2 separate regions of the Homo sapiens genome follow, and region 1 is linked to region 2. Evidence: fine-mapped expression QTL. A gene starts in region 2. The other region holds a variant in brackets. All regions are shown on one strand. Distances are from middle to middle. Region 1 overlaps MGLL (monoglyceride lipase). Region 2 holds the start of MGLL (monoglyceride lipase).

Region 1 (5,000 bases), 110 kb after region 2:
GTGATGGGTCCCCAAAACACAAATGGTGGCACAATGAGAAATCTGGTGGTGGGCTTGGACGAAATGGTGTGGATGCTGGGTGGTCTCTTGCTTTCACCTCTGTGGCAGGCACTGCTGAGGTGCTGGGTCCCTGGGCCTTTTCTTGGCTCTGAGCCATCTGGTCAGGGAATGGGTAGGAAGCTGGCTTACATAAAACAGTCATGTCCCTGAGAAGGCTGTGTGGGCCCCAGCAGGCAGGTGGGTTGACCTGGGAGCAGCGCCTGCAAGGCTGGCACTTGCACACCATCCCGTTACACAGAGCCTTCCTGCGGTTCCTGAGTGTGGTGGGGATCCTCCCGCCACAGCTGGCAGCCCCATGTCTCCTCTGGCTGCACACAGGATCACTAGGGAACTTTAAAAAGGCACTGATGCCAGGGCTCCACTTCGGCCAATACAATCAGTCTCTCAGGGCAGCACTGGGAGGAGGTGTTTGTGGTGTTTCATGGACACACACACTGCCAGCATCAGGGAGTAGTGACAGGGTACTGAGAACAGCAGAATATCTAGAAGTGAGTTCTTCATAACTGTGGAACACAGAAGTCTTCCCTCACAGTGTGGCCCTTGCCCACTGCTGCTGGAGGAGAGCGCTAAGGCCCTGGAACACTCGTCCTTACACAGCCAGAGTCTAGTGAAGGCCACAGAGCCACAGCCCACTGCCTTTATGCACTGATCCACTCCATTTTCTCATTTTTAGATTGTTTTAACCTTTGAAAGCACAGATCCCAATGCAGACGAGCTCCCAATTCTTGGAGTTCACAGACATTTGATCCGTGTTTGAAAATACCCCAGTCCTTGTGCAGAGTTCCCAGAATTCCAAGTTTTCCTTTCCCAGGCTCGTTCTTGGAGCTGGCCCATGATACTAGCTGGACTCTTGAACATTCCTGACCCATCACGGCCACCCTTCGAGGCTTCCGATTATGCAGACACACCATGCCCCTGCACAGTGCTCAAAGTCAGGCTGCCGCATGCTTCTATACTAGACAGTCAAAGTCGGAGCCCAGGGCTCAGCAAAGCACCTGGCACAGTGGCGGCTGCAGAATGAGATCTGCTTGCCTGGATGCCAAGGCTGGAGGGCAGTAAGCTTCGGTATCCTCAGAGGCAGGGGGCTGCCACCTTTGCACTAAGAAGGAATTACTGATTTCTACCATTTGAGAAAAGGAGTGTTGACCACATGGAACTCCGAATAGGTTCATGCACATGGAACAAAGCCCTTTAGGAGAAAAGCCCGTTTTTTGCTGTCTGCCTGATACTGGATGGTTGAGAAACAATCGTGGTGGGCAGTCACGCCACACTTGTGCGGGCCTAGGACACAGGAAGGTTTAGCCCTGGCCTACAGGGAGGGTGGGCAAGCACAGCAATCTTGTCCCCCAAAAGAACATCAGTGGCCGCTGGTGCCAAGACCCACGGGAAGGTTAGAGCTCTGGGTTACATTTGTGGAGAGAGACACAGACAGCGGCAGAGACAGAGACGTAGTAATCCAGGCTGTGTGGCATAAGAAGATAAAGCGGCCCCCCAGCCCGGGGCCCCTCCCATGGACCTCATGGTACCGAGCCTCCATTTTCTCATCTGTTCAGTGAGGATGAAGCCTCATCTCCCAGGGTTTTTGCAAAGACAGGGAGACTGGCCGGGCGCCGTGGCTTACGCCTATAATCCCAGCACCTTGGGAGGCCGAGGCAGGCGGATCACAAGGTCAGGAGTTTGAGACCAGCCTAACCAACATGGTGAAACCCCGTCTCTACTAAAAATACAAAAATTAGGCAGGCGTGGTGGCACGCGCCTGTAATCCCAGCTACTCAGGAGGCTGAGGCAGGAGAATCACTTGAACCCAGGAGGCAGAGGTTGCAGTGAGCCGAGATTGCGCCACTGCACTCCAGCCTGGGTGACAGAGCAAGACTCTCAAAAAAAAAAAAAAAAAGATAGGGAAACTGTGCCCAATGCACCAGAAGGTGGTTCCTCGGTGCCTGTGAGTGCCCTTGCCCTCTGCCAAGGGTACTGAGCTACGTGCCCTGTGCCCTTGATGTACACTGAGAATTCACTGCTTGCCACCTTCCGTCCAATTCTAATTTCAGCATTTCACAGCTCACTTTTGAAATAGCATCTTTCATCCCCAAATGTCTGTGCACATTGCAGAAATGAAAACAGCCCCTCTCTGAAGGCAGAAGTGTGAGATCCGGGTTCTCTGTTTTCCTGGGAAAACAAGAGATCCAGAAGGAGAGATGGGGGAGGGGGTGGGAAGGTTTGGGCCTCAATCAGGCTCAAGTTCAATGAGCATGTGTTAAGCTCCTGCTGTGTTCCCTGGGCTTTTGCACACAGGGTGTTATTCACCTTCCCCGTGGTCCTCTGGGGGAGGGTCAAGGTCCCACTGGCAGCTGAGGAAACGGAGGCTCAGCGATGTGGAAATCCCAGCCCATGTTCACGAGGCAGCAGAGCTAGGAATCAAACCCAGCAATCCTTCCCTCTGCCACACAGCCTCCTCATCGAGCTGGTGCTATTTCTACTTCCACCCGAGAGAAATGGACGCACACTTTCTCTGTGTGGCTCCTGTGGGCCCTTCCGCACTG[C/T]CCTGCTTCGTGCTCAGTTGATCTGTGTGATTCTGCACCTGCCGTGTATTTTCAGTACCCCAGAGAAATGGCCAGAGCTCATCCCAGGCAACTCTTGCCAGTGATGCAAAATTACAACCCATGAGCGATCATGGGGAGGGTATAGAGCGGGCAAAATTCAGACGTGACTTCCCACCTTGGGCGCAGCGGCTGCCTGGCCAGCTCCCCCAAGGTGGAGCAGAGCCAGGCTGAATAGAGGCTGAGTCAGAAGGGAGAGTCCTTGGGCATGCAGGCTTAAGGACGCAGGCTTGGGAGACGAACCTGGCTGATGTTCAGTTTGGGCATCACTCTCCTTAATGTACTGTAAACTGTCACTGCGGAAGAGCCGGGTGTGGATGCCACTTGTGCTCACAGCCCTTGTTTTCCCTCCCCGGCTAGGTCCTTGCTGCGAAAGTGCTCAACCTTGTGCTGCCAAACTTGTCCCTCGGGCCCATCGACTCCAGCGTGCTCTCTCGGAATAAGACAGAGGTGAGAGGCTTTCCGAAACCCCAGGGGTAGCTTGGGTGGCTGCCCCCATGGGGAATCAGAGTTTTGGCTCCAGCCTTGGCATTCTCTGCTGCCCTTTCACCGAGGCCCTGTGCAAAGTGACAAGGACACAGTGGTGCATTAGACATGGTTGGCTTCAGGTTTGGGTGAAAAGGGTGGGTTGGCTATGATGCCTGAGCTGTGTTCTAAACATGAAAGGAGCCAACAGTGGAAGTTGAGTGTGTGCCAGTCAAGTCTCTTGGTTGCAAGAGACAGAAACCTACATCAAAGTGATTTAAGCAAAAGCAGGGATTTTGTGGTGAATGGAACTGAAGGCTTCAGACATGGCTGGATCCAGGGCGTTGAAAGTCTTATTCTCCATCGGTCTCTTCCCAGCTTTCATCTCCCCTGGTTTGGCTTCATTCCCAGACAGGCTTTCCCCCAGTGAAGGCCAAGAGGGCCACCAGCAGGTTTACCTGAGCAACCCCAGTGGAAAAACAGCACCTCTTTCCAGCAAAAGTCTCAGGGCTGATTCTTACTGACTGATTATCCAGGCCTGGATTATTTGTCCAGGAAAGGGGGGTAGTATCATCCCCACCCACTGAGAGTAGAGGAAGGGGATCCCTGGGGGTAACTCAGAATAGTGGTAGCAAAGGAAGGACAGACCCATATTGCAGATGAGCAAACTGAGCCCCATAACGTGGGATGACTTGCTTGGGGTCAGCCAGTGGTGAGGCTAGCCTGGGAACGTGGGTAGGTGTGGTCTCCAGCTGTGCTCTGTCTGGGTATGGGAGTGGGCTTGCAGTTAATGGGTAGGAAGCATCCAGAAGACACCAGCATTATCTTCATGATTAAGCAAATAAGTTTGCCACTCTTCTGCCTCAGTTGCCCTCTTGCTTTAGGAGTTTGAAATCATTGAATCACTGGCTCCCTAAATCACTGAATCACTGGCTCCCTAAAGGGCCCTGGGAAGTGGAGTGCAGTGCTCTAGCATTCTGGGGATGTTCCCAGACTTCCTTGGGCTGTTGGACTCTAGCTTCATTATAAACTGTGGCCTTCTGGCCCTCTGAGTCACTTAGAGAGTGGGCAACTCAAGAGGAATAGCCCGTGGTGTGTAGGAAAGAGACTTTCTAGATCAGGGGTTGAAAACTCCTAGGCCTCTGAGGGCCAGCTGCTTAAAAATCAGACTGGTGAGAGATTCTAGCAAGCCATGAGGCCTGTGTGGAGCCAGAGGGCATCTGATCCATCCAACCCATCCACATTAATTTAAAATTCTAATATAATTTGGTTTTTAAAGCCCACAGTGCCTCCCAAACCTACATCTTGGGGCCAGGTTGGACCCATTAGGGACCAGTGTGTGGCCCCTGGTCTTTCTGAAAGAATATCTGAATAAAGGAAAAAAACTTTAATTCCAAAAAGCAGATTCATACAGTGAAAGAGCACAACTTTAGGACCCAGAAAGACCAAAGCCAAATATACACTGTTTGATTTAATCCTGACATGAATGAGATCGACATTAACCCCATTTCACAGATGAAGAAACTGAGGCTTGGAGAGGTTAAATAACCTGTTCAAGATTGCACAACTAGTCAGGGGCAGAGATGGGATTTTAGCCCATTTTATTCAAAAGTCCATGCTTTGGTGCCTCCCTCTAGCTAGTAATTATGGTCATTAAGCTCTGTTTCCTGTTTTACAATTGATTGCTGGTCCACGCAGCCCATGGCCATGGCCATTGCTCTCTGTACGGGACCCACTTTGACAGGGAAACTCAGTGTGGGGCAGGGGCTCCTGCACCTGCCTGCATCCCTCATAATGGCTCTAGCTTGAAGGTGTGGTGTCTGGTAAAACCAGTGATCTTTGTAGCGGCAGTGCCAGGACAACAGTAGGTTTGAGAAA
Region 2 (5,483 bases):
ACTGTGGACTGCTACACCCAACCCACCTGGAATTATGCTGAATGAAAAGGTGAATCCTAGAGGTTATGTACTTTATGATTCTATTCATAAAATATCCTTGAAATGACAAAATTTTAGAAATGGAGAACAAATTAGCAGTTGCCAGGGGTTCTAGGGGAGTGAGGATGAGAGGGAAGTGGATGTGGCTATAAAAGCATACCACTTTGTGGGGTAGAGACGTTCTGTAGCTTGACTACAGATATTCTATCAGTGTCAGTATCCTGTTGTGATATTTACTGTGGTTTGTGAGAAGTTGCCATTGCAGGAAACTGAGTAAAGGGCACATAGCATCTCTCTTTATTATTTGTTACAACTGCATGCGAATCTACAATTATCTCAGAATAAGTTTAATTAAAAGAAAAAGCCAGATACAGAACAATACGATCTGTCTCTTAACTCCCAAATTCCCAGTTGGCTGGCCACACACCACAGTCTCAGTTCTGTCCATAACCAAGTTTGGGGGATCTCTTCAAGTTTGCAAATGTCACTTCTACTGAGATCCCTCTGACAACTTCAGTGAAGTCTCTCCTCAAAGCTTTTTTTTTTTTTTTTTTTTTTTGAGACAGAGCCTTGCTCTGTCGCTCAGGCTGGAGTGCAATCACTGCAACCTCTGTCTCCCGGGTTCAAGCGATTCTCCTGCCTCAGCCTCCCGAGTAGCTGGGATTACAGGTGCCCGCTACCATGCCCAGCTAATTTTTGTATTTTTAGTAGAGATGGGGTTTCACCATGTTGGTCAGGCTGGTCTCCAGCTCCTGACCTCAGATGATCCACCTGCCTGGCCTCCCAAAGGACTGGGATTACAGGCGTGAGCCACTGAGCCCGGCCTCTCCTCCAAATTTTCAAGCTGTGTATTTTAAATCATAAAATGTTAGAGCCAGGAACATTTGAAATAATGCCTTGATAAAAGCGTCCATCAGACCCCCGAGCACCCTTCCTTTCCATGAATTATAACCAACGGAAATCCGGTGCACTTAGCATGTCCAGCTTTGAGTGAAGCCCCCAAGCTTCCTGCCCCTGAGACTGCCGCCCCTAAACCTCTCTTGCATGGATTCTGTAGAGCTGCCCCGACCAGAAGTCACTTAGCCACTCCTCTGCTCCAGGCCTCGTGGCCTGCTGGAGGCCAGACAGTGGGTAAGTCACGCTCAGCAGTGCCTACAACTCAAGCCACTGCTCAAAGGCTGTTGTTTTATTTCTCAAGTTAGACCACAGGCTCTGTAGCAACTTGGGCCTCCTTGGACACACACAGTGTGACGCTGAGACACAGTCCTCAACGCTGCTATGGTGTAGAATTTTTTGCGGAGAAAGACAGGAAGGCCTCTTGAGGTCAGTGTGAGACAGGGACACTCCACTGGGGCATAGGTATATCACTCACAGGTTGAAGGTAGGTAGACTGAGGCTCAAAGAGCAAGCGGAGGAGCTAATGTTCAACCCAGGTGGTGTGGAGTCTCAGTCCAGTGGCCTTACCCTCCACGGCCACGTTGCTAGTTATACTGGACAGAGCTCAGACTGTGCCCTGGCCTGTGTAGATGCACCAGAGGTTTTATCTGGGGGTCACAGCCGCTGGGAACGGGAGAGTTGCTGGGGATTGCCAGGAAGGGACAAGGCATTTGTAGCCATGCACCATCTGCTTTTACACTACCCTAGAGTCAAGTGGACCCCCTCCAGCATTTTTTTTTCCCCGAGATGGAGTCTCACTCTGTCACCCAGGCTGAAGTGCAATGGTGTGGTATCGGCTCACTGCAACCTCTGCCTCCCGGGTTCAAGCGATTCTCCTGAGTAGCTGGGACTACAGGCGCATGCCACCACGACCGGTTAATTGCCCCTCCAGCATTGTATGTGTCTGACTGCAATGAAGTGTGAGTGTGTCTGTGTGCGACTGTGTGTGTATGATGTGAGTGTGTCTGTGTCTATGTGGGGGCCAGGTGTATAGTCTGCATATGTCTGTGCACCTCTGTGTCTCTGTGGGTTGTCTGTGCCTATGTCTCGGCTTGTGTGTGTGCATGCATGTGTGGTCTGTGTGTGTCTGTATGCATGTGGTATCTCTGGGATGTGTGTCTGTATGTCCCTGCGTGCAGTGTAGTGACTTTGGGAGTGCACATGTGTACACGTGTGGTGAGTGTGCGGCCCTGCGCGAGTTGTCTGTGTACGTGTGGTGCCTGTGGGTCTGTGTGCGCGCGTGTGCCCGTGGGTGTGGTGTGTCCTCCCGCGCTGAGGCTCCCATGAACCCAGCTCAGTTCAGGCCTCCCTGACAGTCCTCGGGCGGCCACCCCGGGGCGCGGCTGTCCACGAGGCGCGGAGGAGAGGAGTGCGTGGCTGGGTCGGCGGGCGGCGCCCCCGCTCCTCCCCGCGGGCCGGGCACACGTGGGCCCCGGGCGCCGCCTCCCCGCGCCGCCCGCCGCCCGCCGGGTCCCGCGCGTCCCCACCCACCTCGGGCCGCCCCCGCCGCCGAGCCGGCCCAGGGATAAAGTGGCGGCGCAGACGCCGCACCCTGTCGCCGCGAAGCCGGTCGCGCGCAGCTCGTCCCGGCCCTGGCCCGCCGCAAACGAGGATCCGCTGCGCTCGGGGAACGCGACAGCGGCGCTCGTGGCCCCGGTAACTGCCTCCCGGCCCCTGCCCCAGCCCGCCAGTGCCGCCGTCAGGGGTGGGGAGCAGCACTGGGGTCCCGGACACGCCCGGCGTGGGCTCCCGCTACCCATGTGTGCGTGTGTGTGTGTGCACGGTGTGTGTGCGCGCGTGTCCGAGTGTGCGCGCGTGTGCGCGCGCGCGCGCCCTCCCTGCTCCTTCGCACCAGCCCCCAAACCAACTTGTCCCCATCAACTCCATCTTTCTAGTCCCCACCTTCCCCGGTGCAGACACCCGGCGAAGCCCACCCGGTTTTCCCAGCGGCATTTCCGATGACAGCTTCGGGGCTACGTGTCCTGTGCTGTCGGAGACGCACAGGAAGCAAAGTTTGTGAGAAGCCTTGGGGGCGACTTTGCCTTGGGCACCCGCATTTGTGCGTCTGCGAGGTGCCTCGGTGTGCGCGGAGCTAGTTTCCCAGTTTCCCGGGCCCCTCCCTTCTCCGAGCCCCTCTAGCGATTTGTTTAGGAAAAGTGATGACATGAACTAGTAGTGGAGAATCGCAGCGCCGCTCCCCGCCCTGGGGAGGGAGGGGAGCCCCGGAGAGCCTGCCGGTGGGAGCTGGAAGCAGGCTCCCGGCTGAGCGCCCCAGCCCGAAAGGCAGGGTCTGGGTGCGGGAAGAGGGCTCGGAGCTGCCTTCCTGCTGCCTTGGGGCCGCCCAGATGAGGGAACAGCCCGATTTGCCTGGTTCTGATTCTCCAGGCTGTCGTGGTTGTGGAATGCAAACGCCAGCACATAATGGAAACAGGTTTGTCATGTATCCTTGGAATTTCAGATGGGAGGAATAATCTGAGTATCATCCACCTCATTATTGTGCCCACTTGAAACTGTTCCTTGGAGATTTTAAGATAGATGGGTCTTCTTGCAGCTGGGTCTTTGTACCCATAGAGCTGACTATAATTTCCACTTGATTACAGCTAAAATAGTCTTTAAGATGAAGTTTCCTGAAATGATTTAAAATAAACACAGATGGGAAGGGGGAAAAACTGTAATGAGGCACTTAAAAAATAAAGTGAGCATTTTCTTAAGAACAAATGGGATTTTTCAGTCTTGGAGAGGTTTGCAAGAAATGTATGTATGTTTTAAACCTTTGAAACAGAGGGGTTTTTTAAACTGCTTTTAAAAAAATGTTACTGACTCTGAACTAGACTTTTCTCTCCTATCCATACATGTTCTTGAGATATTTCTGACTTTGGAATATGTCACTTTTCCTTCTAGGACCTGAAGACCCTTCCAGCATGCCAGAGGAAAGTTCCCCCAGGCGGACCCCGCAGAGCATTCCCTACCAGGACCTCCCTCACCTGGTCAATGCAGACGGACAGTACCTCTTCTGCAGGTACTGGAAACCCACAGGCACACCCAAGTAAGTCTTCCCCAGAAAGTCACCCCAGGTGACAGGGGAGCATGGCCCCTGCTTCTCCTCTGGTCGTTATCATGTGCCATCTGGGGCGGGGCCGCTTTCTCTATGACCTACTTCCCCTGCCGTTTTAATGTTAGGCTGAGCAATGTTAACAAAGCTAAAATGTATACTTTATAATTTTTAAATTTAAGAAGCAGGAATTCTTTTTTCATTATAACAACTCAGATATGGATCCTACCGTATGGCAATTTTCAAAAATTCCACATGACTTTATTTTTTGTACTGGAGTTGATTTCCGGTTGTACAGGCATTCATTTAAAATCAAACCCGACAATTAAGGAAAATCCCCTAGATGGATGAGAAACCCGAAGTAATACATATATCTTCACCTTTGCTCACTTTTCCTGCTTGTTTCTGAGCTTCTGAAGATGGCATACATGTGTCACCAGGAAGAAAGGGGCCTGGGTATTTCCTTCTGATTCCTTGCCAGCTCAATTACTTTGTACATTTTCCATCAAGGATTTGTCTTGCTATTAGAAGCAAACATTGGGACTATACACAAGACAGCTGGTCTCCTGCTGCTGCTCCCTCCTCTTGGATGAAGCAGGAAAACCCTGCTTGTTTGTGTTATTTGGAAAAAGAATTTATTTGTGGTAACCAATTGGCCTGGTGACAAGAACATTTCCTGTTCCAGGGACATTTTACCTGTTTTGTAGGCCTCTTGTCTCCTAGGGATCATTGTGTGGTTGGATTATGTCTCTCTTTGTGCTCCAGTAATCACCCAACCCTCACACAGGTGTAAAATTTCTTCTCTGTCTTCATCAAGGTATCTATGATCCAGGGAGCTGCACGTTAAAAACACAGAGATATGGACTTTTAAAACCCGGCATAGAGTCATAGCTTCAGGGCAGCTACACAGACTGGCTATGGTTTCTCTCTAGTGTTTTCAAGTGGGTAACGTGCTGAGAAGAGTTCCTACCAGTTCTGGTAATACATTTCTTAAAGAATGTGTCTGTACGTGCATACGCATTAGAGGAAGTGGGGGGGTTGTTGAGCATTATGATGCTAATTAATCATTAATTCTCCACTCTGACTTAACTGGCTGTAGAATTGCTCAATCTTGGATTAATTTCTAACAGATTAGTGGTTTGTGGTAATTTGATCAATATACAGAAAGAAGACAAATAATTGAAAATAGAAGTTTTTAATGTCTGAGTCTCAGACTTGGGGGGCTTTGTTGGTTAAGTAGTGAGGTTGTCCTAGTTCGAAGTCAACAAAAATAAAGAGGTTCTGCAGTCCTGGCACAGGGGGAGGGTGGTGGGTGAGTGGGTTAGAAACGGTCAAGTTGGCTGCCCTGCCCTCCCTTCGCCTGCGGGTGGTTTTCACAATCTCTGTGCTGAAGTTGCATTGCAGGGAGCCCTCTCTGCTCCGTTGCTTTTGCTCTAGTTAGAGATGATAACTCAAC

Evidence for each region. PIP is the estimated chance that this variant, and not a neighbour inherited with it, causes the effect.
Region 1: its variant is the best candidate, but not a certain one, in a credible set for the expression of MGLL in whole blood (INTERVAL, PIP 0.65).

The regions. Positions count from the first base shown.
Region 1 is chr3:127,708,683-127,713,682 of GRCh38, reverse strand. MGLL (monoglyceride lipase) reads left to right here. Exons shown (of 8, transcript NM_007283.7): 6 at 3,018-3,107. Among named protein-coding and RNA genes, the nearest start is that of ABTB1, 38 kb to the right of the region's middle. The variant C/T (reference allele first, on the strand shown) is at 2,601.
Region 2 is chr3:127,820,232-127,825,714 of GRCh38, reverse strand. MGLL (monoglyceride lipase) reads left to right here and starts at 3,200. Exons shown (of 8, transcript NM_007283.7): 1 at 3,200-3,406; 2 at 3,877-4,021. The coding sequence starts at 3,397. RefSeq lists a silencer at 2,239-2,758.